Linked DNA regions of Homo sapiens. The protein of the gene in region 1 binds, or shares a complex with, the protein of each later gene. Each region holds a gene or a part of one and is shown on either strand. Other genes may lie near its edges. The genes, in order: NUP160, NUP85, NUP188 and RANBP2.

Region 1 (7,026 bases):
ATTTCTTTCTTATTGATAGAGATGACAGACAGTATTTCACAATTATAATAGTTAAATGAGGCCAGGTGCAGTGGCTCATGCCTTGTAATCCCAGCATTTTGGGAGGCCAAGGCAGGAGGGTCATTTGAGCTCAGGAGTTCAAGACCAGCCTGGGCAACATAGCAAGACCCTGTAGAAAAAAAATTTTTTAGGCTGGGCACAGTGGCTGATGCCTGTAATCCCAGCACGTTGGGAGGCTGAGGTGGCTGGATCACCTGAGGTCAGGAGTTTAAGAACAGCCTGGCCAACATGGTAAAACCCCGTGTCTACTAAAAATACAAAAATTAGCTGGGCATGGTGGTGCACGCCTGTAATCCCAGCTACTCGGAAGGCTGAGGCAGGAGAATCACATGAACCCAAGAGGCGGAGGTTGCAGTGAGCCGAGATCATGCCACTGCACTCCAGCCTGGGTGACAGATTGAGATTTGTTTCCTTAAAAAAAAAAAAAAAAGTTTAAAGAGTTAAATGAAATTACATGTAGTACCTTGTAAGCACCTCCTCAACTGCAGTCGGTTAAAATACTTTGATTTGACATGGGATATTGCATAATTTGTTTAAGTTAGCATTTATTTAGTGCCCTATTTTCTCCTTCCTTCATGCATTTGGAAATTAGATTGAATGTTACTTAATGTTCAGTGGAAATTGACAGGTTGCGTTAATCTGATGGATACTTCTTTGTATTTTGGGAGTTCAAAATATTTTTCTTTGATGTATAGCAAATCGACAAATTGAAATCCTGGAACTGGAAGATCTGGAGAAAGAGTGTTCCTTGGCTCGCATCCGCCTCACTTTGGCTCAGCATGATCCATCAGCGGTTGCAGTTGCTGGTAGGAATTCAAGAGTTTAAAGCCTCTGACTTGTCAGCACCACGAGCACATTTTAGGTCCAGGCAGTGTATGTAGCATGGTAGATGGGTATAAAGCCTGGGTTATTACTCAGAGATACTCATCAACAAAACAAAATCTTTGGTTTCATTTGTGTATACCTTGGCTACACGAAATAATCTTTTTCCATTTTCACAGGAAGTTCATCAGCAGAGGAAATGGTCACTCTCTTGGTTCAGGCGGGCCTCTTTGACACTGCCATATCACTCTGTCAGACTTTTAAGCTTCCCTTAACGCCAGTCTTTGAAGGGCTTGCCTTCAAGTATGTATAAAATTATTTTTTTATAGTCTTTTCTAATGCAAATATATTATCCTCTTGCTCAGTGTGAAACAGTCGTCATAAGCCAAGTAGCCCATATATCATTTATGATTTGAAGAAGTGTTTTGTTTAATCCATCCAAGCATTCTTAAAAAGAATTTCAGGCTGAGCGCAGTGGCTCACGCCTGTAATCCCAGCACTTTGGGAGGCCGAGGCGGGCGGATCACGAGGCCAGGAGATCAAGACCATCCTGGCTAACAAGGTGAAACCCCGTCTCTACTAAAAATAATACAAAAAAAATTAGTCGGGCGTGGTGGCGGGCGCCTGTAGTCCCAGCTACTCGGGAGGCTGAGGCAGGAGAATGGCGTGAACCTGGGAGGCAGAGCTTGCAATGAGCCGAGATCGCGCCACTGCACTCCAGCCTGGGCGACAGAGCGAGACTCTGTCTCAAAAAAAAGAAGAAGAATTTCTTGGCCAGGCACAGTGGCTCACATCTGTAATCCTACTAATACTTTGGGAGGCTGTGGCGGGTGGATCGCTTGGGACCAGCCTGGCCAACATGGTGAAACCCTGTCTCTACTAAAAATACAAAAATGAGGGTGTGGCACACAACAGTAATTTCAGCCTCTCAGGAGGCTTAGGCACAAGAATCTCTTGAACTTGGGAGGCAGAGGTTGCAGTGAGCTGAGATCGCGCCTCTGCACTCGAGCCTGGGCAACAAAGCAAGACTCTGTTTCAAAAAAAAAAAAAAAAAAAGTTTGTGAATTAGAAATAATTTTGAACTTTCAGAATTTTTCAGCCAGGTGCAGTGGCTTACGCCTGTAATGCCATCACGTTGGGAGGCCAAGGTGGGCAGATCACTTGAGGTCAGGAGTTCAAGACCTGCCCGGCCAACATGACGAAACCCCATCTCTACTAAAAATACAAAAGTTAGCCAGGAGAGGTGGCGTGTGCCTGTAATCCCAGCTACTTGGGTGGCTAAGGCAGGAGAATCGCTTGAGCCTGGGAGACGGAGGTTACAATGAGTTGAGATTGCGCCACTGCACTCCAGCCTGGGCAACAGAGCGAGACTCCATCTTAATTTAAAAAAAAAAAGAGGCCAGGTGCGGTGGCTCATACCTGTTATCCCAGGACTTTGGGAGACCTAGGCGGGCGGATCATGAGGTCAGGAGATCAAGACCATCCTGGCTAACACAGTGAAACCCCGTCTCTACTAAATATACAAAAAATTAGCCAGGCATGGTGGCATGGGCCTGTAGTCCCAGCTACTCAGGAGGCTGAGACAGGAGAATCACTTGAACCTGGGAGGCAGAGGTTGCAGTGAGCTGAGATTGCACCACTGCACTGCAGCCTGGGTGACAGAGCAAGACTCCATCTCAAAAAAAAAGAAAAGAAAAAAGAATTTTTCATCATTAATTTTATCTTGGAAGTAAATTGTCTCTTAATGCTTACTCATGTTCTTGTAGGTATCCAGTTGTGTAACTTGAGGAAGAGATGAGCCAATATTCCAGTAGTGAATTCAGCAAAAGACTAGAGATGAAGTTGTCATCTATCTCTCTAGTTTTAGTATCAAATTAAAGTGGTACGTTTCAGCGTTCAGTTTTCAAGTGTGGAACCATTTTCATTCCAGATGCATCAAATTGCAATTTGGAGGAGAGGCAGCACAAGCAGAAGCCTGGGCCTGGCTAGCAGCCAATCAGCTCTCATCTGTCATCACTACTAAGGAGTCTAGGTACAACCCTGGTGTTCAACCCTGGGTAGTTTTGCCTTTCTAAAAGCTGTAACTGTCTTTCTCTGACTAAATTGTCCTACATAGATCATTTCACTTTTTTCTTTCTTTTTGGCTAAGTTTTTATAGGGGCTGGAAAGTTTATAATTAAGGTGACATCATGTCATTTATTGTCCAAACTAGGATGTCTTTGCCTATGAAATGTCTCCTTCTCCATATCCCCCTCCTCAAAGACTTACTGTTTCATATCAGGAAAGGGTACTCTTACAGGCAAAAATCTGTATTTACTTGTTTCGGAGTGTTATCCTCCTTTTTTCCCCCATTTCTTCCACTGAGCAGTCACTGCATGGTTTCATCACAGTGTCCTCTTATATCTTGTCTCCAGCTGCTGTTCAGCAGTCTGTCACCCATCAGCCCCCATCATCCACTATACCTTCTTCAGATCTCCTCTGGTTCGTATACTTCCCCAGTGCACCCACTTTGTGTCCACGTAAATATACTTCAGCTTCTTCAGAAACCTTCTCTAACATTCCTAACCCTCAGTAAACTTCCCTTTCTGAACTGCATTTGCACTTGGTATTATACAGCTTAGCACTTTAGAGTGATAGCACTTTAGAATTTGGAAGTTCTCTGACATTAGTTTTCAACCCCTAAATTAGCACATCAGAATAACTTATTAAAATACAGATTATGAGAAATCACCCTAGTCTTCTAAGTTAGAACTTCTGCATGATTCTAATGCTTGATCAGGTTTGAGAACCAGTGTTCTGAACCAGTTTCTTGTTTTAGAAATGCAGAAACAAAGGAGTTAAATGAATTATGCATTAATAGCCAAACAAATAACGTTCATTTACTAAATATGTTTGTTTACTAAATACTAAATACGTTAGTGGGAGAGGAATATACGAACCCAAGACATCTAGTTTCTAGTGCTATCCCCATAAGTCACATTAGCCCAAATAATATTTGTTCCCATTTAGCTATATTATTGATTCAGTTGTTAATTTCTAAAGTTTTCCTTGTAAGGCTGGGCATGGTGACTCCTGCCTGTAATCCCAACACTTAGGGAGGACAAGGTCAGAGGATCACTTTAGCTCTGGAGTTTAATACCAGCGTGGACAACATAGCAAGTCCTTGTCTCTACAAAACATAAACAAAATTAGCTGGGCATAGTGGTGCATGCCTGTATTCCCAGCTATTTAGGAAGCTGAAATGGGAGAATCTGGGGCTGAGGCTGCAGTGAGCTGAGATCACACCACTCCACTCTAGCCTGGGTGACAGAGCAAGACCCTGTCTGAAAAAAAAGTTTTCCTTGTAAATACATGCTTTGAATGGTACTCTAAATAGCTATTAAGAATCTGAAACTCATTAGTCATTTTTGTTTTTTTCAAGTGCTACAGATGAAGCATGGCGACTATTATCCACTTACCTGGAGAGGTACAAAGTCCAGAATAACTTGTATCACCACTGTGTAATCAACAAGCTCTTGTCTCATGGAGTGCCTCTGCCTAATTGGCTTATAAACAGTTACAAGGTAAACGGATTATAACTTGTACAGAGTAAGAACCCACTCTTTATCATTCTGGATAACTTCATGAGATGATTAAAAATATGGACTGATTGCAGTGGCTCATACCTGTCATGCCCGCACATTGGTAGGCCAACAGGGGAGGATGGCTTGAGCCCAGGAGTTTGAGACCAGCTTGGGCAACACAGGGAGACCCCATCTCTATTTAAATTTAAAAATATATAAAGAAAAAGAAAAAGATGGGGTGATAACTTATGGGAACATATTGACTTACGTACTTTGGGAAGCTTTTCATCATAGCTAAAACCATAAGAACAATTCAAATTCATTTCCACAGTACTACTGTGTATTTAGATTTGAAGTTTCATAGGTTAGTAATTAGGTTAATGACTCCTATTATATTCACTGAACAATGAGTTTATATTTAGAACAATGAGCATATGCATGACACAGGATTTACTCTTCATACCTCAAAAAAGTCACAGGAGTCGGTGGAGTACTTTTCAAATAATATAACACTATGGCTGGTCTGAGTGCCGTGTTGTTTACAACTAATTGAGCACAACCAGTTTCCGATTGGTTCCTTCTCCACTCCCACTGTTTCACCTATTAAAAATCAAAAACGGGTTCTTAGACTGTCTGCATCAGAATTATTCAGATGGCAGTCTTCTTCAAAATACAGATTCCTCATCCTAGACTTACAGAATCAGATTATCTCAGGCTAGGAGCCAGAAATCTACATTTTAAGAAGCTCCTAATTTGATTTTGATGCATGCTAAAGTTTGAGAACTTCTGCATCTGAACCACCGTTAGTAGGATAAGGAAAGAGAAAATCTAAAGCTTAAAATCAGGAAAGTTTTTTTTGGTTTTTTTTGTTTTGTTTTGTTTTGTTTTTTTTGTTTTTGTTTTTGTTTTTTTTTTAAGGTAGAAAGGAGGCCGGGCACGGTGACTCACGCCTGTAAACCCAGCGCTTTGGGAGGCCAAGGCAGGCAGATCACCTGAGGTCAGGAATTCGAGACCAGCCTGGCCAACATGGTGAAACCCCATCTCCACTAAAAATACAAAAATTATCTGGATGTGATGGTGCGTGCCTGTAATCTCAGCTACTCTGGAGGCAGAGGTTACAGTGATCTGAGGTTGCACCACTGCCCCCAAGCCTGGGCGACAGAGCAAGACTCTGTCTCAAAAAAAATAAATAAATAGGAAAGTAGGGAAGCCAGCTAAGATGGTAAAGGTAAGATTGTGATCAAATGGGAATATAGAAAGCATGCTTAATTAATAGAGCTCTTCCAAATAGAGACTTCAGATTTAAAGCTGGTGATTCTTTGAACTTCTTTTGCATTTGTCATTCATATATTTCTTATTATGTGAATATATTGTCACTTTAGTGTTCAGGAAAAGTTTGTTGACTTTACAACTGTGGAAACTGAAGTGGAGAGAAGTTAAAATATGTCTTAGGTCATAAAACAGGGGAAGAAGGCTATTTAACAGATAAGGGCCTCCCAAACTGCCTAGAGGTAACGGCTCTTAGGGATTTAACTTTTTTTTTTTCCTAACTCCCCAGATTTGTTATCAGCTCTTATCCTAAGATACAGATGAGTAAACCAAGCCACTGGTTTAATTATATTGAGAAATACAAATGTTAGGGAATCAGCCACTCAACATTCTTTGGTCAGTACTCAAGTAGGAGGGAAATAGGTACATATTCTTAATCACTGACTTTTCACAGAAGGTTGATGCTGCTGAATTGCTTCGTTTATACTTAAACTATGACCTTTTAGAAGAAGCTGTGGATTTGGTGTCAGAATATGTGGATGCTGTATTGGGAAAAGGACATCAATACTTCGGAATTGAGGTAGGCATATACAAATGGTCCCCAATTTACAATGGTTTGACTTACGATTTTTCAACTTTACAGTGGTTTGAAAGTGATGAACATTTATGAGAAACCATACTTTAAAATACTGATGGCCGGGCACAGTGACTCATGCCTATAATCCCAGCACTTTGGGAGGCCGAGGCAGACAGATCACCTGAGGTCAGGAGTTCGAAACCAGTTTGGCCAACATGGCAAAGCCCCGTCTCTACTAAAAATACAGAAATTAGCCAGATGCAGTGGCACGTACCTGTAATCCCAGCTACTCAGGAGGCTGAGGCAGGAGAATCGCTTGAACCTGGGAGGCAGAGGTTGCAGTGAGCCGAGATCATGCCACTGCACTCCAGCCTGGGCAACAGAGCGAGACTCCATCTCAAAAATAAATAAATAAATAAATAATAAATAAATAAAATACTCATACAACCGTTCAGTTTTTCAGTTGCAGTACAGTATTCAATAAATTACACAAGATATTCAACAGTGTATTATAAAGTAGGCTTTCTGTTAGATGATTTTGCCCAACTTTATAGGTTAACGTTAAGTGTCCTGAGCATGGTTAAGTAGGCTAGGCTAAGCCGTGATGTTCATTAGGTTAGATGTATTATATGTATTTTCAACCTATGATATTTTCAACTGATAGTGGGTTTATTGGAAAACAAACCCACCATAAGTTGAGGAACATCGGTATAGGCGCATATATATATATATATA
Region 2 (7,026 bases), on another chromosome or scaffold:
TGTTTATTACCTCAGATTTTACTAGTTGTGGACTGAAACAGTTGAATTTATTTTGTACTATTTTAATTTTCTCTATTTTGTTTTCAAGATACAACAGGGTTTTGTTGTGTCACCTGGGCTGGAGTACAGTGTGATCATGGCTCACTGCAGCCTCTACCTCTTGGGCTCAAGTGATCCTCTGCCTCAGTCTTCCTAGTAGCTGAGACTACAGGTCACCATGCCACCACGCCCAGCTAATTTTTTTTTCTTTGTAGAGATGGGAGTCTCATTTTGTTGCCTAGGCTGGTCTCGCACTCCTGGCCTCAAGCGATCCTGTTGCATTTTGGCATTTTTATTTTTGAAATGTTAGCTATTTTAGATTTTCATTGATTTTTGAGATCTTGAAGATGTTGAATCCCGGAAAAAAATTAATAGTTTTCATGAAAAATTTTCTTCATATTTAAAATGTCAAGCTTTTTATCCCTTTTTCTTTGTCCAAAGTGACCAAATTCCTATCAGTAGCTCCCTTATTGTGAACCTTGCAGATGCTTGGCCGTCACTTTTGTGTCCACAGCATGGATTCAGCTGAATAATAGTTCTGTAGGCTGAGCTGAGCCGTAGCATCCAAGGCACAGATGGAGCTGGAGAGTGACATAGCTTGTCCTTGGCTTGATTTTCCTGAGTTCCATCAGCTATTGGATAGGATGTGAATCTTTTTCTTTTCCTGATACAGTGATACAGTCTCCTTCCAGTAGAAGGATAAAACTGGAATCTTGACATTTGATTTGCTTTCTTTTTTTTTTTTTTTTTTTGAGACGGAGTCTCGCTCTGTCCAGGCTGGAATGCAGTGGTGTGATCTCGGCTCACTGCCACCTCCGCCTCCCGGTTTGAAGCAATTCTCCTGCCTCAGTCTCCTGAGTAGCTGGGAATGAAGGCATGTGCCACCACGCCCAGCTAATTTTTGTATTTTTAGTAGAGACAGGGTTTTGCTATGTTGGCCAGCCTGGTCTCGAATTCCTGACCTCGTGATCTGCCTGCCTTGGCCTCCCAAAGTGCTGGGATTATAGGCAAGAGCCACCATGCCCGGCCACAGAAAATTTTTTTAGAGTAGATTCACTTTTGGAGATGATCATAATAGATGTTAAATTTTTTTTTTCTGTTTGGTTTCAGAAAAATCAGAGATGGTGCCAAGTTGCCCCTTTATCTATATCATCCGTAAGGATGTAGATGTTTACTCTCAAATCTTGAGAAAACTCTTCAATGAATCCCATGGAATCTTTCTGGGCCTCCAGAGAATTGACGAAGAGTTGACTGGAAAATCCAGAAAATCTCAGTAAGTTGGTTGCTGTTTGGTGTTGAAGCCCACACTACACTGTGGAAAGCCAAATGAAGTACATTGTTGTCTTTTTGTGTGTTTTATGGGTTGCGTAAAGAAATAAGAGACTCCTGGTTCTAGTTGAGGCATGAGTACTGGACAGTGTACATTAGCAGTGATGGGAAGACTTAGCGGGAATATGCAAATGCTATTGATGGGCTGGCTTGACAAGCTTTATTTATATTCATATTTTACTTAGCCTCTAAAGAAGAAAATTTAGGCCACACAAGCATGTGAGAGTCGTTGAATGAGGTCACATTGTTGGGAGATTTGAAAATTAATATAAACCTAACAGTTTTGTCTCTAAAAAATTATGGTTCAGACGTTATTTGACAACAGACCAGAAAACTCTCGTACTATTTATAGATTAGGATTTTCTTGAATTGTAGTTCATAACTTCATCATTATCAGAGTGGTACTTGTTAATTGTAGACTTTTGGGACCCACCTCAGATCATCAAAATCAAAATCTCCGTGGTTGGATCTTAAAATCTCCAGCACACTGAAGTTTAAGAACTCCTGTGTTAGATTTTTGTCAGCGTCCCTTCACATGGATGGCTAGGGAATGGGCAGTGTTGGTATGTTACTTCTTTGATAAGCTTTTCACAAATGAATCATTCTGGACAAGACTCAGGTCAGCTTCTGTGTGAGTGTGTGCAAGAGTGATTATTGGTTGTTTTTCTGTTTTTTTTCGAGGCAGAGTTTCGCTCTGTCACCCAGGCTGGAGTGCAGTGACGCGTTCTCCGCTCACTGTAAGCTCTGCCTCCTGGATTCACGCCATTCTCCTGCCTCAGCCTCCCGAGTAGCTGGGACTACAGGCGCCTGCCACCACATCCGGCTAATTTTTTGTATTTTTAGTAGAGACGGGGTTTCACCGTGTTAGCCAGGATGGTCTCGATCTCGTGACCTCGTGATCCACCTGCTTCGGCCTCCCAAAGTGCTGGGATTACAGACGTGAGCCACTGTGCCTGGCCCTGTTTTTTTTTTTTTTTTTGAGACAGAGTTTCACTCTGTCACCCAGGCTGGAGTGCAGTGGCGCAATCTTGGCCCACTGCAGCCTCTGCCTCCTGGGTTGAAGCCATTCTCCTGCCTCAGCCTCCTGAGTAGCTGGGATTACAGGTGCGTGCCACCACGCCTGGCTAATTTTTGCATTTTTAGTAGAGATGGGGTTTCATCATTTTGGCTGGGCTGGTCTTGAACTCCTGACCTCAAGTGATCTGCCCACCTCAGCGTCCCAAAGTGCTGGGATTATAGGAGTGAGCCACTGCACCTGGCCTGATTATTGGATTTAAGGGACTCTAGTGGAGAATATTGGTGAGTTTGAGAAATCTATTGTCACTTCTAGGAAAAAAACATGTCAAAAGTCCTGTAATTCCTTGCTGGCAGGGGACCCTGTCTTATTCTTTTTTTTTTTTTTTCAGATGGAGTCTCACTCTGTCGCCCAGGCTGGAGTGCAATGGCATGATCTTGGCTCACTGCAACCTCCGCCTGCCGGGTTCAAGAGATTCTCCTGCCTCAGCCTCCTGAGTAGCTGGGATTTTTGTATTTTTAGTAGAGACAGGGTTTCACCAGGTTGGCCAGGCTGGTCTCAAACACCTGACCTCAGGTGATCTGCCCACTTTCACCTCCCAAAGTGCTGGGATTACACGCCTGAGCCACCGGGCCTGGCCAGTAAATACATTTATGTATCTTTTTTATTTTTTTGAGACAAGGTCTGACCAGTAGATTTCATCTGCAACAATTAATGGCAGTATGGGTTTGTGGATATTAACTTTAGCCCATGGGTTGTTTTGTGGCGTTTTATTTTGTTGTCCAAGTTGTTCCAGCTTCAGAAGGTTAGGAGCTCCTTCACAACGGCTCTCCTCTTTCTTTCAGCAAATTTCTGCATTTATTTGAGTGTTTCCTTCCTTTGTGGCACTACAAGATGTTCCAGGCTCATCTTGTGTGTTATTTCATTTTTTGTAGATTGGTTCGAGTGAGTAAAAACTACCGATCAGTCATCAGAGCATGTATGGAGGAAATGCACCAGGTTGCAAGTAAGGACTGTGTGCGCGTGCGCGCGTGTGTGTGTGTGTGTGTGTGTGGGTATTTTGAGTATTTATCTATGCATAAATACTGTGAGGTAAAGTTTGATTGATATTCCAGTCCAAAACTTATTTTTCCATCTTTCATAATCCTTACTTTTTTGGTAATCATTTAGAGGTTTTTTTTTTTGTTGTTGTTTTTTTTTTTTTTTTTTTTTTTTTTTTTTTTTTTTTTTGAGACCGAGTGTTGCTCTGTCGCCCAGGCTGAGGTGCTGTGGCATGAACTCAGGTCACTGCAACCTCCACCTCCCAGGTTCAAACGATTCTCTAGCCTCAGCCTCCTGAGTAGCTGGGACTACAGTTGTACACCACCAAGCCCAGAGTTCTGGGATTACAGGAGTCAGCCACTGTGCCTGGAGTTTTTTTTTTTTTTTTTTTTTTTTTTTGAGACAAGGTTGCCCAGGCTGGAGTGCAAAGAAACATTATGGCTCACTGCAGTCATGAGCTCACCGCCTGGGCTCAAGTGATCTTCCTACCTCATCCTTCCAAGTAGTTGGGACTGCAGGTGTGTACTACCATGCCCAGCTAATTTAAACAGTTTTTGTCCAGTTTTCCTCAGAGAACTTTGTTCTGATAATTTTTAAATTATTTGTAGAAACGGGGTCTCCCTAATTTTTCCAGGCTGTTCTTGAACTCCTGGGCTCAAGCAGTCCTTTGACATCAGCCTCCCAAAGTGTCGGGATTACAGGTGTGAGCCACTGTGCTTGGCATGTCAGAGACCTTTATGGTAGCTGTGTTGCAGTTGAAAGTGCCATTTTGTAACTTGAGGGCTTTTGGTTTGAGAATTGAAGGGATATGAAGCATTAACAGCAACAAAAAAATCCATAATTAAAAGAGATTATAATGTCTTTTAATTTTTCTCATTAAAATAAACAGAGGCTCAAGCCATAGACCCTGGAATATTCAGCTATGACAATAAGCCTAAGAGTTCCATTGCTCACTTAAAATGTTTTGTGTTTTGTTAGTTGCTGCTAAAGATCCAGCCAATGGCCGCCAGTTCAGCAGCCAGGTAAGGGGAGTCACCTTTATTGTTTTAGCACCACTGTGTCCTGTGTCCTGGGCACCCACCTGGGGTGGCTTTGCAGTTCCTGTTATGGCAGAAGTCTCTTCTTTTCAGGTAGATAGGCAGCTCCTTTGGGTGACAGTGATTGTCTTGCCCCCTTCAAGGTGTAGCTCACAAGGAAGTGCTTGTTAAATACTTGAGTGAATGTTCGGTTCCTTTTTTTTTTTTTTGAGATGGAGTCTTGCTCTGTCACCCAGGCTGGAGTGCCCTGGGTTCAAGCATTTCTCCTGTCTCAGCCTCCCGAGTAGCTGGGATTATAGGTGCATGCCACACCAAGCCCAGCTACTTTTTGCATTTTTAGTAGAGATGGGGTTTCACCATGTTGGCCAGGCTGGTCTTGAACTTTTGACCTCAAGTGATCCACCCGCCTCGACCTCCCAAAGTGGTGGGATTACAGGTGTAAGCCACCGTGCTGGCCCTGAATGTTCCGTTCTTATGGAACATATATGTCCTGACCAAATTGTGTTGAGGGGTTGTCACCTGAAATGGAGAAGTAATCTTGTGAGATCACTGCTCGGTCTCATAAACACTCCTCACTTCTTGAACTCAACATTTTTTTTTTGAAAGACAGGGTCTCTCTGTGTTGTCAAAGCTGGTCTCGAACTCTTGGGCTCAAGTGATCCTCCTGCCTTGGCCTCCCAAAGTGCTGGGATTATAGGTGTGAGCTGCCACACCTGGCAAAACTCAAGTTTTTTTTTTTTTTTTTTTTTTTTTTTGAGACGGAGTCTCTCTCTGTCGCCCAGGCTGGAATGCAGTGGCGCGATCTCGGCTCACTGCAAGCTCCGCCTCCCAGGTTCATGCCATTCTCCTGCCTCAGCCTCCCGAGTAGCTGGGCTAATTTTTTGTATTTTTAGTAGAGAGGGGGTTTCACCGTGTTAGCCAGGATGCTCTCGATCTCCTGACCTCGTGATCTGCCTGCCTCAGCCTCCCAAAGTGCTGGGATTACAAGTGTGAGCCACTGCGCCCGGCTAAACTCAACATTTTTACTGAGTTGCAAGTGGCTCTACTTTACTTGGAGCTGGAAGATGACTTACAGTATCTTTTTCCTCAGTAGATGCTTCATATTAGATACTTTTCAAAGTCAGTAGTGACTAGGTAGTAATTCACTGTCTCTGAAGTACCCTTATGAACAAGTCATCATGGTGTCTGTGGACTGAAGGATGGTGAGGAAGGGAAGCCTGCGTATTCCTAAGGGCAAGGTCCAGGTCTGATTTATTTCGGGGTCTTATATTGGGCTTTCCCGTTAATAGACTGTTCCCCTAAACTTCAGTCCTTTGAATACCAGCTTCACAATTCTTGCTCTGTCTACGTGTTTCATGTCATCTACTGAATATTCTTCTAAATATTGTCTCTTCTTTTTACTCAAATGAAGCACCTTGCTAAAGCATCAGTTCATCAAGATAGGCTGGGCGCAGTGGCTCACGCCTGTAATCCCAGCACTTTGAGAGGCCGAGGTGGGTGGATCTCTTGAGGTTAGGAGTTCGAAACTAGCCTGGCCAACACGGAAACTCCATCTCTACTAAAAATACAATATTTAGCTAGGCGTGGTGGTGTGCGCCTGTAATCCCAGCCACTTGGGAGGCTGAGGCAGGAGAATTGCTTGAACCCTGGAGGCAGAGGTTGCAGTGAGCCGAGATCATGCCACTGCACTCCAGCCTGACTGACAGAGTGAGACTCTGTCTCAAAAAAAAAAACAAAAAACAAAAACTGAGTGTTGGCAGGGCACGGTGGCTCAAGCCTGTAATCCCAGCACTTTGGGAGGCCGAGGCAGGTGTATCACGAGGTCAGGAGATCGAGACCTTCCTGGCTAACAAGGTGAAACCTCGTCTCTACTAAAAATACAAAAAATTAGCTGGGCATGGTGGCAGGCGCCTGTAATCCCAGCTACTGGGGAGGCTGAGGCAGGAGAATCACTTGAACCCGGGAGGCGGAAGTTGCAGTGAGCCAAGATTATGCCACTGCACTCTAGCTTGGGCAGCAAGAGCCAAACTCCATCTCAAAAGATAAATAAATAATAACTGGTGACATGCAAGTTATATTTTTTCTTTTTTTAAATTTTGAGACAAGGTCTCGCTCTTGCCCAGGCTGGAATAGTGGCACGATTATGGCTCACTCAGACTCAACTTCCTGGGCTCAAGTGATGCTCCCACCTCAGCCTCCTGAGTAGCTGAGACTGCGGGGATATGTCACTACACTTGGCCAATTTTTATATTTTTTGTTGAGACAGGATCTTGCCATGTTGCTCAAGCTGGTCTCAAACTCCTAGACTCAAGCATTCCACCTGCCTTGGCCTCCCAAAGTGCTGGGATTACAGGAATGAGCCACTGCACCTGGCCAAGTTATTTTTGTAATGCACAGTAAAATAAAATCACAACCACTAAAACAAAATAGTGTTGGTCTCCATCCCACCACCTAACATCCTCACGCTGGCTCCCCTGTGGGAAATCCTCCAGTAGGATTGCAGTAACCTTTGGGTTAAGGAATGACTGTCATATGAGTCAAAGTCTGCTTTATCCCTTGGCTCTG
Region 3 (7,026 bases), on another chromosome or scaffold:
TCTACAAAAAATTTTTTAAAAAATTAGCCAGGCATGGTGGTGCATGTCTGTAGTCCCAGCTACTTAGGAGTCCAAGGTGGGAGGATTGCTTGATCCTGGGAGGTTGAGGCTGCAGTGAACTCTAGCCTGGGAGACACATCGAGACCCCAGCTCAAAAAAGCAAAAAGCTTTATAAACATTACGCATTCCCTACTTCTTTGCTGAAATGAGACTACCTAGCCTAGCTGCTGAAGTCTTTTAAATCTACCTTTGTATTTCATTGATTCCTTTTATGAAAAGATACCTGTGTTCATTGCTTGGCTGCTGAGAGTAGGGGTGCAAATACCATTCTTCTACCTCAACCTAAGAAAGATTCTTGGCCAGGCATGGTGGCTCACGCCTGTAATCCCAGCACTTTGGGAGGCCGAGGCGGGCGGATCACCTGAGGTCAGGAGTTCGTGACCAGCCTCAACATGGAGAAACCCCGTCTCTACTAAAAATACAAAATTAGCCCGGTGTGGTGGTGCATGCCTGTAATCCCAGCTACTCGGGAGGCTGAGGCAGGAGATTCGCTTGAACCCGGAAGTGGAGGTTGCAGTGAGTCGAGATCGCGCAACTGTACTCCAGCCTGGGTGACAAAGCGAGACTCCATCTCAAAAAAAAAAAAAAAAAAAAGTCAGGCTTGGTGGCATATGCTTGTATTAGTAGTTCCAGCTACTCAGGAGGCTGTGGTGGAAAGATCGCTTAAGCTCAGGATATCAAGCCTGCAGTGAGCCATGATTGCATCACTGCACTCCAGCCTGGGTGACAGAACAGGACCCTGTCTCAAAAAACAACAAAGAAAACTTCACCACAACATCATTTATATTATTAAATAATTACAGTCAGCTTAAGTATATCAAACATTAGAGGAATGGTAAATGAATTATGATCTACCAACTTGATACAAGTATTATGCAGCAACTTGAAAGTATGTTTATCAAGACTTTCATAATAAGGTTAAGTCATTATGTTATAATGTTAAGCAAAGAAAAGAAGGTTACAGAATTCTGTATTCAAAATGATTTCAACTCTGGGGAAAAATGCATATTAAAAACACTCAAAGGAATGTGTAATACTTAGTGTGATTCTGGAATCTGATTTTTTTTTTTTTTTTTTGAGACGGAGTTTCGTGCTTGTTGTCCTGGCTAGAGTGCATTGGTGCAATCTCGGCTCACCACAACCTCTGCCTCCCAGGTTCAAGTGATTCTCCTGCCTCAGCCTCCCGAGTAGCTGGGATTACAGGCATACACCACCACGCCCAGCTAATTTTGTATTTTTTAGTAGAGACAGGGTTTCTCCATGTTGGTCAGGCTGGTCTCCAACTCCCAACCCTAGGGGATCCGCCCGCTTCGGCCTCCCAAAGTGCTAGGATTACAGGCCTGAGCCACCATGCCTGGCCGAGTCTGATTATTAATAAAACTGCATTTGGGCCGGGCGCAGTGGCTCACACCTGTAATCCCTGCACTTTGCTGACATGGGCAGATCACGAGTTCAGGAGTTCAAGACCAGCTTGGACAATATGGTGAAACCCCATCTCTACTAAAAATACAAAAAAAACTGACTGGCATGGTGGCGTGCGCCTGTAGTCCCATCTGCTCAGGAGGCTGAGGTAGGAGAATTGCTTGAACCCAGGAGGCGGAGGTTGCAGTGAGCCAAGATTGCGCCACTGCACTCCATCCTGGGTAACAGAGTGAGACTCCGTCTCAAAAAAAAAAAAAAAAAAGAAAGCACAAAAAACTGCATTTGCGGTCGGGTGCCTTGGCTCACGCCTGTAATCCCAGCACTTTGGGAGGCCAAGGCAGGCAGATCACTTGAGGTGGGGAGTTCGAGATCAGCCTAGCCAACATGGTGAAACTCCATCTCTACTAAAAATACAATAATTAGCTGGGTGTGGTGGCTGGCACCTGTAATTCCAGCTACTCGGGAGGCTGAGGCTCGAGAATCACTTGAACCTGGGAGGCGGAGGTTGCAGTCAGCCAAGTTGGTGCCACTGCACTCCAGCCTGGGTGATAGAGTGAGACTCTGTCTCAAAAAAAAAAAAAAATACTGCATTTGTATAATTACCTTGTTCTTTTCCAGAGTCAGATTGAGGCAGAACTGAATAAACATTGGCGGCGATTGTTAGAGGGGCTTTCTTACTACAAACCTCCCAGGTATGGCAGTTCCGGGTGTCTGGTTAAAGTAATTGTCCTAAGGAAGCTGACATGGATAAAACCATCCTTCTATGTGCTTTGATGATATTGTAGGGTTATGTATACCAGAGATAATACAATTTAGTTTACCAGTGGAAAACAGTAGGGTACATTTGTTTTTTTGTTGACCGAAAGAAAAGGAAATTCCTTCTAGAAATACAGTATTGTAGAATATAATTATGACCTATGTGTGGGGATGAGAATTTATTAAACATTCAACGAATTTTCTAATATTTATTCAGAGTCCACAGTGTCTGTGTGAGTACTAATTGGTGGGAGATAGCAGTGAAGGATGATGCTAACAACTGACACTTGTGTAGTGTTAACTATGTAACAATTAATACTCTAAGCACCTGACTTATCAAAAGTTATTTAATCCCCACAACACCCCTTTGAGATAGTTACTACTTTTATTCTTTGGGTGAATATATAGATCTTTTTATTGGGTAGTGGAAAACATAGTAATAAAATATAAAGTAGTTGCAAATAAAGAGAATGCAGCTTGTAGGGCTGGGCTTATTTGATCTTGATTCCTAGTCCAGATCTCATTCTATTATGCGTTATAGTCTAAGTCACCCTCATTTCCCTTCTACTTTTGTACTGCTTTTGAATGTATTACATCTTTACCTTCCATTTTCATTCTCTTAGGTTAACGATGAACTTTTCCTTGTTATTCATCTGTCTGTTAATTCTTCCCCTGTAATTACCTTAAAGTAAATCCCAGATACCTTGTTATTTTATCTGCAAATACTTGACTATGTATCTAAAATACATGGACTTTTTAAAAAGATAATCTCTATATTATCACATTTAGGTACCCTTATCATTGTTTCCATTTTACCAGTGGGGAAACTGAGGCACAAAGAGGTTAAGCAACTTGTCATGGTCACACAGCTACTAAGTGATAGAACCAGGATTTGACCCTGGTGGTCTCATTCCAGTGTCTGTTCTTTTTTTTTTTTTGAGATGGGGTTTTGCTCTGTCGCCCAGACTGGAGTGCAGTGTCACATCTCAGCTTACTGCAACCTCCACCTCCCGGGTTCAAGTGATTCGCTTGCCTTGGCCTCCCGAGTGGCTGGGATTACAGGTGCCCGCCACCACGCCCAGCTAATTTTTGTATTTTTAGTAGAGATGGGGTTTCACCATGTTGGCCAGGCTGGCCTTGAACTCCTGATCTCAAGTGATCTGCTCACCTCGGCCTCCCAAAGTGCTGAGATTACAGGCGTGAGCCGTCATACCCAGCCTATTGTTTTCTTTACTATCTTTTTTCTGTTCCAGGATCCAACCTAGTTGTCAAGTGCCTGTAGTCTCCTCTTAGCTGTGACAATGTCTTAGTCTTTTTTTTTTGAGATGGAGTCTCGCTTTGTGGCCCAGGCTGGAGTGCAGTGGCACGATCTCGGCTCACTGCAAGCTCTGCCTCCCGGGTTCACGCCATTCTCCTGCCTCAGCCTCCCGAGTAGCTGGGACTACAGGCGCCCGCTGTGACAATGTCTTAGTCTTTTTTTTTTTTTTTTTTTGAGATGGAGTCTCGCTCTGTGGCCCAGGCTGGAGTGCAGTGGCACGATCTCGGCTCACTGCAAGCTCTGCCTCCCGGGTTCACGCCATTCTCCTGCCTCAGCCTCCCGAGTAGCAGGGACTACAGGCGCCCGCCACCACGCCTGGCTAATTTTTTGTATTTTTAGTAGAGACAGGGTTTCACTGTGTTCGCCAGGATGGTCTCAATCTCCTGACCTCATGATCCGCCCGCCTCGGCCTCCCAAAGTGCTGGGATTACAGGCGTGAGCCACCGCGGCCGGTGACAATGTCGACAATGTCTTAGTCTTACCTTGATTTTCATGACCTTGAACAAGTTTGAGGACTGGTCAGTTATTTTGTAGTATGCCCCCAATTTGGGTTTGTCTGATGTTTTCCTTATTATTAGACTGGGGTTGTGAGTTTTTGGGAAAAATACACAGAGGTGAGGTGCTCTTCTTTTTTTTTTTTTTGAGATGGAGTTTCGCTCTTGTTGCCCATGCTCGCGTGCAATGGTGCGATTTCAGCTCACTGCAACCTTTGCCTCCTGGGTTCAAGCAATTCTGTCTCAGCCTCCCGAGTAGCTGGGACTACAGGTGCATGCCACCATGCCTGGCTAATTTTTGTATTTTTAGTAGAGACAGGGTTTCACCATATTGGTCAGGCTGGTCTTGAACTCCTGACCTCAGGTGATCCGCCCGCCTCAGCCTCCCAAAGTGCTGGGATTACAGGCGTGAGCCACCACGCCTGGCCAAGCTACCCTTCTTACCACATCATAGCAGAGAGTACATGCTGTCCACATGAAATCACTGGTAATGTTAATCTTGGTCACTCAGTTAAGGAGGCATTTGCCAAGTTTCTCCTCTGTAAAGTTACTTTTTTCTCTTTTCCTATTTTATTTTTTGGAAGTGAGTACTAAATATAGCCATGTCCAGCTAATTTTTTTCACTTTTGGTGGAGATGAGGGTCTCACTTTGTTGTCTAGGCTGGTCTCAAACTCCTGGCCTCAAGCTACACTCCTGCCTTGGCCTCCCAAAGTGCTGGGATTACAGGCATGAGCCATTGTTCTGGCCCCTCCCTATCCTATTTATTTATTCATTAGTTTATATCAGTATAGACTCAAATATATTTATTTTATTTATCTTATACTTTGTTTATACCTTGTTTCAGCTTTGGCTATTGGGCATTCTTTTAGGTTGGCCTCTGTCCTTTGGGCGTGTCCTTCCTTTTTTCTTTTTTTCTTTTCTTTTTTTTCTATTATGTCATCTCCTACCGAAAGGACTTTGGTTTCTTAAGCCCTTTTGTACTTCTTTTCACTATAAGATGCTTCAAGATTTTCTTGTATTTTCCTTGCCCTGACTCTAGAATCAACCAATTCTCCAAGGAATCCTGTTATTAGAGAATGGTATTATAAAGCAGGATCTGGGTGCTGCATGTACCTCCTGCTGTTGGAGTATTATAAATTCTAGGCCTTCTCGGTGGACAGAGCTATTACAGATAATATATTAATATATGTATGTATGCCACAGACCTGGTTTTAAATTTTAGCAACTGTTTATGAGCTGTGGGATTTTTGGTAAGTTATTTACCCTAAGTGCTGGCAATTCCATTTGTAAAAGGAGAATAGTAATATTTGCCTTTTAGGGCAGTAGTAAGGATCAAAAATAATGTAACTTAATGTGTTTACAAATAACATTGTTATAACTGTAATTTAACCACTTTTTTTTTGTTTTGTTTTGTTAGGCATAACCAGTTCTGCGTTATGAAGTTTGTAGAGGTGAATGGGTGTGTGTGTGTGTGTGTGTGTGTGTGTGCGTGTGTGTGTTTGTGTGTGTGTTTATAGGCATCTGAAGGGCAGAAAATAGTCTGTAGGAAAAATATTTTAAAATATTTTTATTTTAAACTCAGTGGGCTATTGAGAATGAAGAAATGATTCACTGTTCTTTTTGTAGTCCAAGTTCAGCTGAAAAAGTGAAAGCTAATAAAGATGTAGCTTCACCATTGAAGGAACTGGGTTTAAGAATCAGCAAGTTTTTGGTGAGTAAAAATTAGCACTCGCTCAATTTATTACTTGCAGTGTGGATGTGCGTGGTTATATTGCTAGTGATAGTGAAAATTCAGTTTCTTTTTGTTTTGGGGATTAAATTGTTTTATAAATACCCAGGTTGCAACTCTTCTCCCTAAAAGTTACAAGTCAAAGTTGCCTGATCCATTCACTGCATATCATAGGGTTTTCTTCACCAGACATGTGGTGGTCTTTAAGGTGACTAAGTTTGTCATTTTGGAAGCTCACATCATGCCTACTGCTGTATTAATGTGCTTAGTGAATAAGCATCGTTGTTTCTGGCATGTACATTTAATTGTAATAAAAATTGTATGTCAGTGACTGGCTCTTGTCTTCTATTAGAGTCAGAATTGTTATGTTTTATGAATCTTTGAGAAGCATTTTTGTTTATTCAAGTCCTGTGTTCATTGTAGAAGACAAATCTTTAAATTCTCTGCATCCTGTGTGCGATTTCTGAGCTGTTCCTTACTTAAAATCTCTGTGTTTCAGGGTCTTGATGAAGAACAGAGTGTGCAGTTACTCCAGTGTTACCTGCAAGAGGACTACAGGGGTACTCGGGACTCAGTAAAGGTTTGTGGTTTATGTCAGCTCCTTTCTTCTGCCTTTATCCTTTTTCCCTGTTGGTTTTAGATAATGTAGGATTTTGGCACCAATTCTTTTATCGGTGGTAGGTGATCAGGTACCGTCATCTTCAGGGAAGACCTACTAAAGGCTTTAAAAAAAACATGACCTGGGTGCAATGGCTTGTGCCTGTACTCCCAGCTTCTTGGGAGGCTGAGGCAGGAGGATCACTTGAGTCCAGGAGTTTGAGGCTGCAGTGAACTGTGATCGCACTACTGCACTCCAGCCTAGGCAAAAGAGTGAGACCCTATCTCTTTAAAAAGTAAAGAATATATATGCATATAAGCTGAGATCTGTCTTCATACTTGGAGGAGTGGAGAGGTCAAAGACTGACATGTTAATCATAGAATCTTGGGCTATTAGAGGTGATAAGGATTTGGTAGAGTTTCTTTTTTTTTTGAGATGGAGTTTCGCTCTGTCTCCCAGGCTGGAGTGCAATGGCGTGATCTTGGCTCACTGGAAGCTCTGTCTCCCGGGTTCACGCCATTCTCCTGCCTCAGCCTCCCAAGTAGCTGGGACTATAGGCGCCTGCCACCACGCCCGGCTAATTTTTTGTGTTTTTAGTAGAGACAGGATTTCACCGTGTTAGCCAGGATGGTCTCAATCTCCTGACCT
Region 4 (7,026 bases), on another chromosome or scaffold:
CCCCAGGAACAAATGTAGCCATGGCGTCAAATCAGGCTGTCAGAATTGTAAAAGAACCCACAAGTCATGATAACAAGGATATTTGCAAATCTGATGCTGGAAACCTGAATTTTGAATTTCAGGTTGCAAAGAAAGAAGGGTCTTGGTGGCATTGTAACAGCTGCTCATTAAAGAATGCTTCAACTGCTAAGAAATGTGTATCATGCCAAAATCTAAACCCAAGCAATAAAGAGCTCGTTGGCCCACCATTAGCTGAAACTGTTTTTACTCCTAAAACCAGCCCAGAGAATGTTCAAGATCGATTTGCATTGGTGACTCCAAAGAAAGAAGGTCACTGGGATTGTAGTATTTGTTTAGTAAGAAATGAACCTACTGTATCTAGGTGCATTGCGTGTCAGAATACAAAATCTGCTAACAAAAGTGGATCTTCATTTGTTCATCAAGCTTCATTTAAATTTGGCCAGGGAGATCTTCCTAAACCTATTAACAGTGATTTCAGATCTGTTTTTTCTACAAAGGAAGGACAGTGGGATTGCAGTGCATGTTTGGTACAAAATGAGGGGAGCTCTACAAAATGTGCTGCTTGTCAGAATCCGAGAAAACAGAGTCTACCTGCTACTTCTATTCCAACACCTGCCTCTTTTAAGTTTGGTACTTCAGAGACAAGTAAAACTCTAAAAAGTGGATTTGAAGACATGTTTGCTAAGAAGGAAGGACAGTGGGATTGCAGTTCATGCTTAGTGCGAAATGAAGCAAATGCTACAAGATGTGTTGCTTGTCAGAATCCGGATAAACCAAGTCCATCTACTTCTGTTCCAGCTCCTGCCTCTTTTAAGTTTGGTACTTCAGAGACAAGCAAGGCTCCAAAGAGCGGATTTGAGGGAATGTTCACTAAGAAGGAGGGACAGTGGGATTGCAGTGTGTGCTTAGTAAGAAATGAAGCCAGTGCTACCAAATGTATTGCTTGTCAGAATCCAGGTAAACAAAATCAAACTACTTCTGCAGTTTCAACACCTGCCTCTTCAGAGACAAGCAAGGCTCCAAAGAGCGGATTTGAGGGAATGTTCACTAAGAAGGAGGGACAGTGGGATTGCAGTGTGTGCTTAGTAAGAAATGAAGCCAGTGCTACCAAATGTATTGCTTGTCAGAATCCAGGTAAACAAAATCAAACTACTTCTGCAGTTTCAACACCTGCCTCTTCAGAGACAAGCAAGGCTCCAAAGAGCGGATTTGAGGGAATGTTCACTAAGAAGGAAGGACAGTGGGATTGCAGTGTGTGCTTAGTAAGAAATGAAGCCAGTGCTACCAAATGTATTGCTTGTCAGTGTCCAAGTAAACAAAATCAAACAACTGCAATTTCAACACCTGCCTCTTCGGAGATAAGCAAGGCTCCAAAGAGTGGATTTGAAGGAATGTTCATCAGGAAAGGACAGTGGGATTGTAGTGTTTGCTGTGTACAAAATGAGAGTTCTTCCTTAAAATGTGTGGCTTGTGATGCCTCTAAACCAACTCATAAACCTATTGCAGAAGCTCCTTCAGCTTTCACACTGGGCTCAGAAATGAAGTTGCATGACTCTTCTGGAAGTCAGGTGGGAACAGGATTTAAAAGTAATTTCTCAGAAAAAGCTTCTAAGTTTGGCAATACAGAGCAAGGATTCAAATTTGGGCATGTGGATCAAGAAAATTCACCTTCATTTATGTTTCAGGGTTCTTCTAATACAGAATTTAAGTCAACCAAAGAAGGATTTTCCATCCCTGTGTCTGCTGATGGATTTAAATTTGGCATTTCGGAACCAGGAAATCAAGAAAAGAAAAGTGAAAAGCCTCTTGAAAATGGTACTGGCTTCCAGGCTCAGGATATTAGTGGCCAGAAGAATGGCCGTGGTGTGATTTTTGGCCAAACAAGTAGCACTTTTACATTTGCAGATCTTGCAAAATCAACTTCAGGAGAAGGATTTCAGTTTGGCAAAAAAGACCCCAATTTCAAGGGATTTTCAGGTGCTGGAGAAAAATTATTCTCATCACAATACGGTAAAATGGCCAATAAAGCAAACACTTCCGGTGACTTTGAGAAAGATGATGATGCCTATAAGACTGAGGACAGCGATGACATCCATTTTGAACCAGTAGTTCAAATGCCCGAAAAAGTAGAACTTGTAACAGGAGAAGAAGATGAAAAAGTTCTGTATTCACAGCGGGTAAAACTATTTAGATTTGATGCTGAGGTAAGTCAGTGGAAAGAAAGGGGCTTGGGGAACTTAAAAATTCTCAAAAACGAGGTCAATGGCAAACTAAGAATGCTGATGCGAAGAGAACAAGTACTAAAAGTGTGTGCTAATCATTGGATAACGACTACGATGAACCTGAAGCCTCTCTCTGGATCAGATAGAGCATGGATGTGGTTAGCCAGTGATTTCTCTGATGGTGATGCCAAACTAGAGCAGTTGGCAGCAAAATTTAAAACACCAGAGCTGGCTGAAGAATTCAAGCAGAAATTTGAGGAATGCCAGCGGCTTCTGTTAGACATACCACTTCAAACTCCCCATAAACTTGTAGATACTGGCAGAGCTGCCAAGTTAATACAGAGAGCTGAAGAAATGAAGAGTGGACTGAAAGATTTCAAAACATTTTTGACAAATGATCAAACAAAAGTCACTGAGGAAGAAAATAAGGGTTCAGGTACAGGTGCGGCCGGTGCCTCAGACACAACAATAAAACCCAATCCTGAAAACACTGGGCCCACATTAGAATGGGATAACTATGATTTAAGGGAAGATGCTTTGGATGATAGTGTCAGTAGTAGCTCAGTACATGCTTCTCCATTGGCAAGTAGCCCTGTGAGAAAAAATCTTTTCCGTTTTGGTGAGTCAACAACAGGATTTAACTTCAGTTTTAAATCTGCTTTGAGTCCATCTAAGTCTCCTGCCAAGTTGAATCAGAGTGGGACTTCAGTTGGCACTGATGAAGAATCTGATGTTACTCAAGAAGAAGAGAGAGATGGACAGTACTTTGAACCTGTTGTTCCTTTACCTGATCTAGTTGAAGTATCCAGTGGTGAGGAAAATGAACAAGTTGTTTTTAGTCACAGGGCAAAACTCTACAGATATGATAAAGATGTTGGTCAATGGAAAGAAAGGGGCATTGGTGATATAAAGATTTTACAGAATTATGATAATAAGCAAGTTCGTATAGTGATGAGAAGGGACCAAGTATTAAAACTTTGTGCCAATCACAGAATAACTCCAGACATGACTTTGCAAAATATGAAAGGGACAGAAAGAGTATGGTTGTGGACTGCATGTGATTTTGCAGATGGAGAAAGAAAAGTAGAGCATTTAGCTGTTCGTTTTAAACTACAGGATGTTGCAGACTCGTTTAAGAAAATTTTTGATGAAGCAAAAACAGCCCAGGAAAAAGATTCTTTGATAACACCTCATGTTTCTCGGTCAAGCACTCCCAGAGAGTCACCATGTGGCAAAATTGCTGTAGCTGTATTAGAAGAAACCACAAGAGAGAGGACAGATGTTATTCAGGGTGATGATGTAGCAGATGCAACTTCAGAAGTTGAAGTGTCTAGCACATCTGAAACAACACCAAAAGCAGTGGTTTCTCCTCCAAAGTTTGTATTTGGTTCAGAGTCTGTTAAAAGCATTTTTAGTAGTGAAAAATCAAAACCATTTGCATTCGGCAACAGTTCAGCCACTGGGTCTTTGTTTGGATTTAGTTTTAATGCACCTTTGAAAAGTAACAATAGTGAAACTAGTTCAGTAGCCCAGAGTGGATCTGAAAGCAAAGTGGAACCTAAAAAATGTGAACTGTCAAAGAACTCTGATATCGAACAGTCTTCAGATAGCAAAGTCAAAAATCTCTTTGCTTCCTTTCCAACGGAAGAATCTTCAATCAACTACACATTTAAAACACCAGAAAAGGGTAAGTACTTTGTTGTTAAAGTTAAGCACAATTTTTCTTTCTTTTAATGTTTAGCTTGATGCAGACTCTTTGTAGGATACTAATGTTGGGATATAAATGATGCTTTGTGAACACCCCCAAAATATTTGAGCAATTTTTTTTCTCCCTTAATAAGTTCACGGTGAGGTTTCAAAGAGCAAGAGAACTTAGTTTAAGACATTTCAGTAACTGGAAGATACTTTTATCATGCTAGGGCAGAGCAAAAGAACTCGGTACGGTATACGGACTCATGCTTGAATCATGCACATTAACGTGAGTCTTTTTTTAAAGTGTTCATTTTCATTTGTTCAGTTTCTTTTGTCACTCAGAAAACATGATATTGAGGCTGGGCACGGTGGCTCACTCCTAGAATGCCAGCACTTTGGGAGGTTGAGGTGGGCAGATCACTTGAGCTCAAGAGTTCGAGACCAGCCTGGCCAGCATGGTGAAACCCTGTTTCTACTGAAAATACAAAAATGAGCCGGGCGTCGTGGTGCGTGCCTATAATTAGCAGCTACTTAGGAGGCTGAGGCAGGAGGATCACTTGAGCACAGGAGATGGAGGTAGCAGTGAGCTGAAATCATGCCACTGCACTCCAGCCTGACTGAGTGACTGAGACTTTGTCTCCAAAAAAAAAAAAACAACGTGATATTGAGATGTTCTCATTTTATATGTTGTATGTCAGTCTTGCTCATGTATTAAATGAGCAAAGAATGAAACTACAGGGATAAATGAATATGTAAGACAATCAGATTGGTGGTATAAATTGAGGGATTCTGGCTTTTTATGTTTTAAAAGCATATTCATTTTGTTTCCTAAAATGTTAAAAAACGAAATATTCTTTATTTTCTAGGATTTAATTTTAGCCTTTTTAAATCTAATCCCATGGCCTTTTGGACTAGCACCCCTTCCTCACAGCCTGAGAGCAAAGGTATAGAACTAGCATTCTCAGTATGAGATAACAGCAGTTTTTAGCAGCTGGGTAGCCCTTAGCAAAGTATTAATAACTGTGGCTGTATGAAATGAAGTACTTACCACTACAACATGCATGTTAAAGAATGCCAGTTTAAGCAAAGTACCTTTTGACTGGTGGCATGACACCCTTGTTGGTTTGTTTTTTAAAATGTACTGGGATGCTGATTTGTAATGTACTTCATTGCTCTGCTATTTCAGGTCTGCTCAATGAAGACCTATGTTTTATCTAATGTTTATGTTTAGCCACTAACGTCTGCCAGTATTCAAATGTAGTGGCAACGGCATGTATACAATATGGAAGAGTGTCCCTGTAGGGCTGTTCTTTTGTGCATGGTTTAGAAAAATGTTGTATTTGAAAATGGACCCCGTTTTTAACAGCCAGCATTCTACAGCTTGCATATTATATATGTTGCACCGATCAATTTTAGAAGTGTGGCTACTAGAGTGGAACAAGAAGTGGGATCTGTTGAAGGCCTTCAAGAACAGGTTAGGGAAGTGAAATCTCACCCTTAGTGACCAGTAACACATCTTAGCCATGCCAAACAAGTACAATGATAAAGTAGCAATCTCTGATTTTTTTTTTTAAGTATACCAGTTTTATTACTAGCTAAGGTAGCTCTTAATCTTTTATTTTTAAAGATACGGTCTTTGAGAAATGTGAAAAGTGTTAACTTAAAAGTGGATGTATACTTGCGTACAGTTTCTGTGAGCTCTAGGTTAGGAATCCCTGACCTAAGAATGAATGTGCCTATATACTACTGTAGAACATAGAGCCTTATTTTGTTTTGAATCTGATAATGTCATTGTCCCAAGGGACCTTAGAAATGAAGACTTTAGACATGAGTAAACTGAGGCCAAGAGAGGCTATCTGATTTACCCAAGGTGTCTTTACTGAGTAATAGCAGAAGTGGAACAAGAATCTGTATCTTACGGTGTACTGTTATTTCTCCTAGCTAGAAAATGATACTAAGTTTTTGTTTATAATGAAGGAGAGGGACAAATTTAACATTGTAAAAGGAAGGGCACTGGTTCTGCAGAGCAGTGTCATCCAGTAGAAATAAAATATAACCTGTGTATGTAATTTAAAATTGTCATTTGGTGCAATGGCTTGTGCCTATAATCCCAGTTACTTGGGAGGCTGAGGCAGAGGGATCACTTGAGCCCACAAGTTCCAGGCTTTAGTGAACTGTGATCACATCACTGCACTCCAGCTCTGGGTGACAAAGCAAGACTGCATCTCAAATAAATAAATAAATAAATAAATTTTCTAGTAGCCATATTAAAAAGAATAAAAAGAAACAGTTAAAAAGGGAAACAGATGAAAGTAACTTTATTGATAGATTTGATTTAACTTATGTCCAAAATATCATTTTAACTTCTAATTAATATAAAAATTAATGATATTTTACATTATTGTTTTTCACCAAGTCTTCAAAATCCAGTGTGTGTGTTTACACTTACTGTTAGCACGTCTTGATTTGGACTAGCCACCTTGTGAGGTTTTAATAGAATGTGGCTAGGCTACCATATTGGACACCATAGCTCTCAGAATGTTTCCCTATCACTAGTTGGTATACATGGCATGCTTCATGACTGGCTTGCTTTATTAAACTCCTTTAGCCAGAAGTTCAGAACAGGTTGCATATAGAAGTTTTTTCTCTTTCTAATTTTTTGCCCTTTGCATTGATGGTGGCTGGGGATGGGTTGTTTTTAGCCATATGAATGGTCTTAGATTTTATAGTGTTAGCTACCTATAGAGTCACAGTTGTTATTTAATTTTACTTAGTATCATGCTTGAACATAGGCAAACTAGATGCAACTCTAGTCACCTTCCATTCTTGGCAATTGTTAACTTTCCTTACAGAAACTAATCACAGTTGGCTTTGGATTAGTTTCATATGTATAGTAATACTTGCCTATGTTTTAAGATTTTTTTCAATTGCTGCAAATGCATGGATATTTTGGTAAACTATTGTATGCTAAGTATAGTTAGGCAACACTTTAAAATTTTTAACCTTTATAAATTCTAGAAATTTATAGTAATTCTTTTCAATGACTATTAAGTAAACACAAATTTTTTTTTGTTTTCTTTGGTTTTAAATA

What was found.
Region 2: NUP160 (region 1) and NUP85 share a complex: the UniProt entries of both Homo sapiens proteins name them as parts of the nuclear pore complex.
Region 3: NUP160 (region 1) and NUP188 share a complex: the UniProt entries of both Homo sapiens proteins name them as parts of the nuclear pore complex.
Region 4: NUP160 (region 1) and RANBP2 share a complex: the UniProt entries of both Homo sapiens proteins name them as parts of the nuclear pore complex.

What each region holds. Positions count from the first base shown.
Region 1 is NC_000011.10:47,782,341-47,789,366, reverse strand, and holds part of NUP160 (nuclear pore complex protein Nup160), read left to right. Parts: intron 1-755; coding exon 756-866; intron 867-1,061; coding exon 1,062-1,185; intron 1,186-2,812; coding exon 2,813-2,914; intron 2,915-4,303; coding exon 4,304-4,445; intron 4,446-6,168; coding exon 6,169-6,294; intron 6,295-7,026. UniProt on the Homo sapiens protein: Functions as a component of the nuclear pore complex (NPC). Involved in poly(A)+ RNA transport.
Region 2 is NC_000017.11:75,208,674-75,215,699, forward strand, and holds part of NUP85 (nuclear pore complex protein Nup85), read left to right. Parts: intron 1-1,149; coding exon 1,150-1,312; intron 1,313-3,318; coding exon 3,319-3,389; intron 3,390-4,402; coding exon 4,403-4,446; intron 4,447-7,026. UniProt on the Homo sapiens protein: Essential component of the nuclear pore complex (NPC) that seems to be required for NPC assembly and maintenance. As part of the NPC Nup107-160 subcomplex plays a role in RNA export and in tethering NUP96/Nup98 and NUP153 to the nucleus.
Region 3 is NC_000009.12:128,950,673-128,957,698, forward strand, and holds part of NUP188 (nucleoporin NUP188), read left to right. Parts: intron 1-2,100; coding exon 2,101-2,174; intron 2,175-5,677; coding exon 5,678-5,762; intron 5,763-6,279; coding exon 6,280-6,360; intron 6,361-7,026. UniProt on the Homo sapiens protein: Component of the nuclear pore complex (NPC), a complex required for the trafficking across the nuclear envelope. Required for proper protein transport into the nucleus.
Region 4 is NC_000002.12:108,764,459-108,771,484, forward strand, and holds part of RANBP2 (E3 SUMO-protein ligase RanBP2), read left to right. Parts: coding exon 1-3,930; intron 3,931-4,801; coding exon of another isoform or gene 4,802-4,879; intron 4,880-7,026. UniProt on the Homo sapiens protein: E3 SUMO-protein ligase which facilitates SUMO1 and SUMO2 conjugation by UBE2I. Involved in transport factor (Ran-GTP, karyopherin)-mediated protein import via the F-G repeat-containing domain which acts as a docking site for substrates.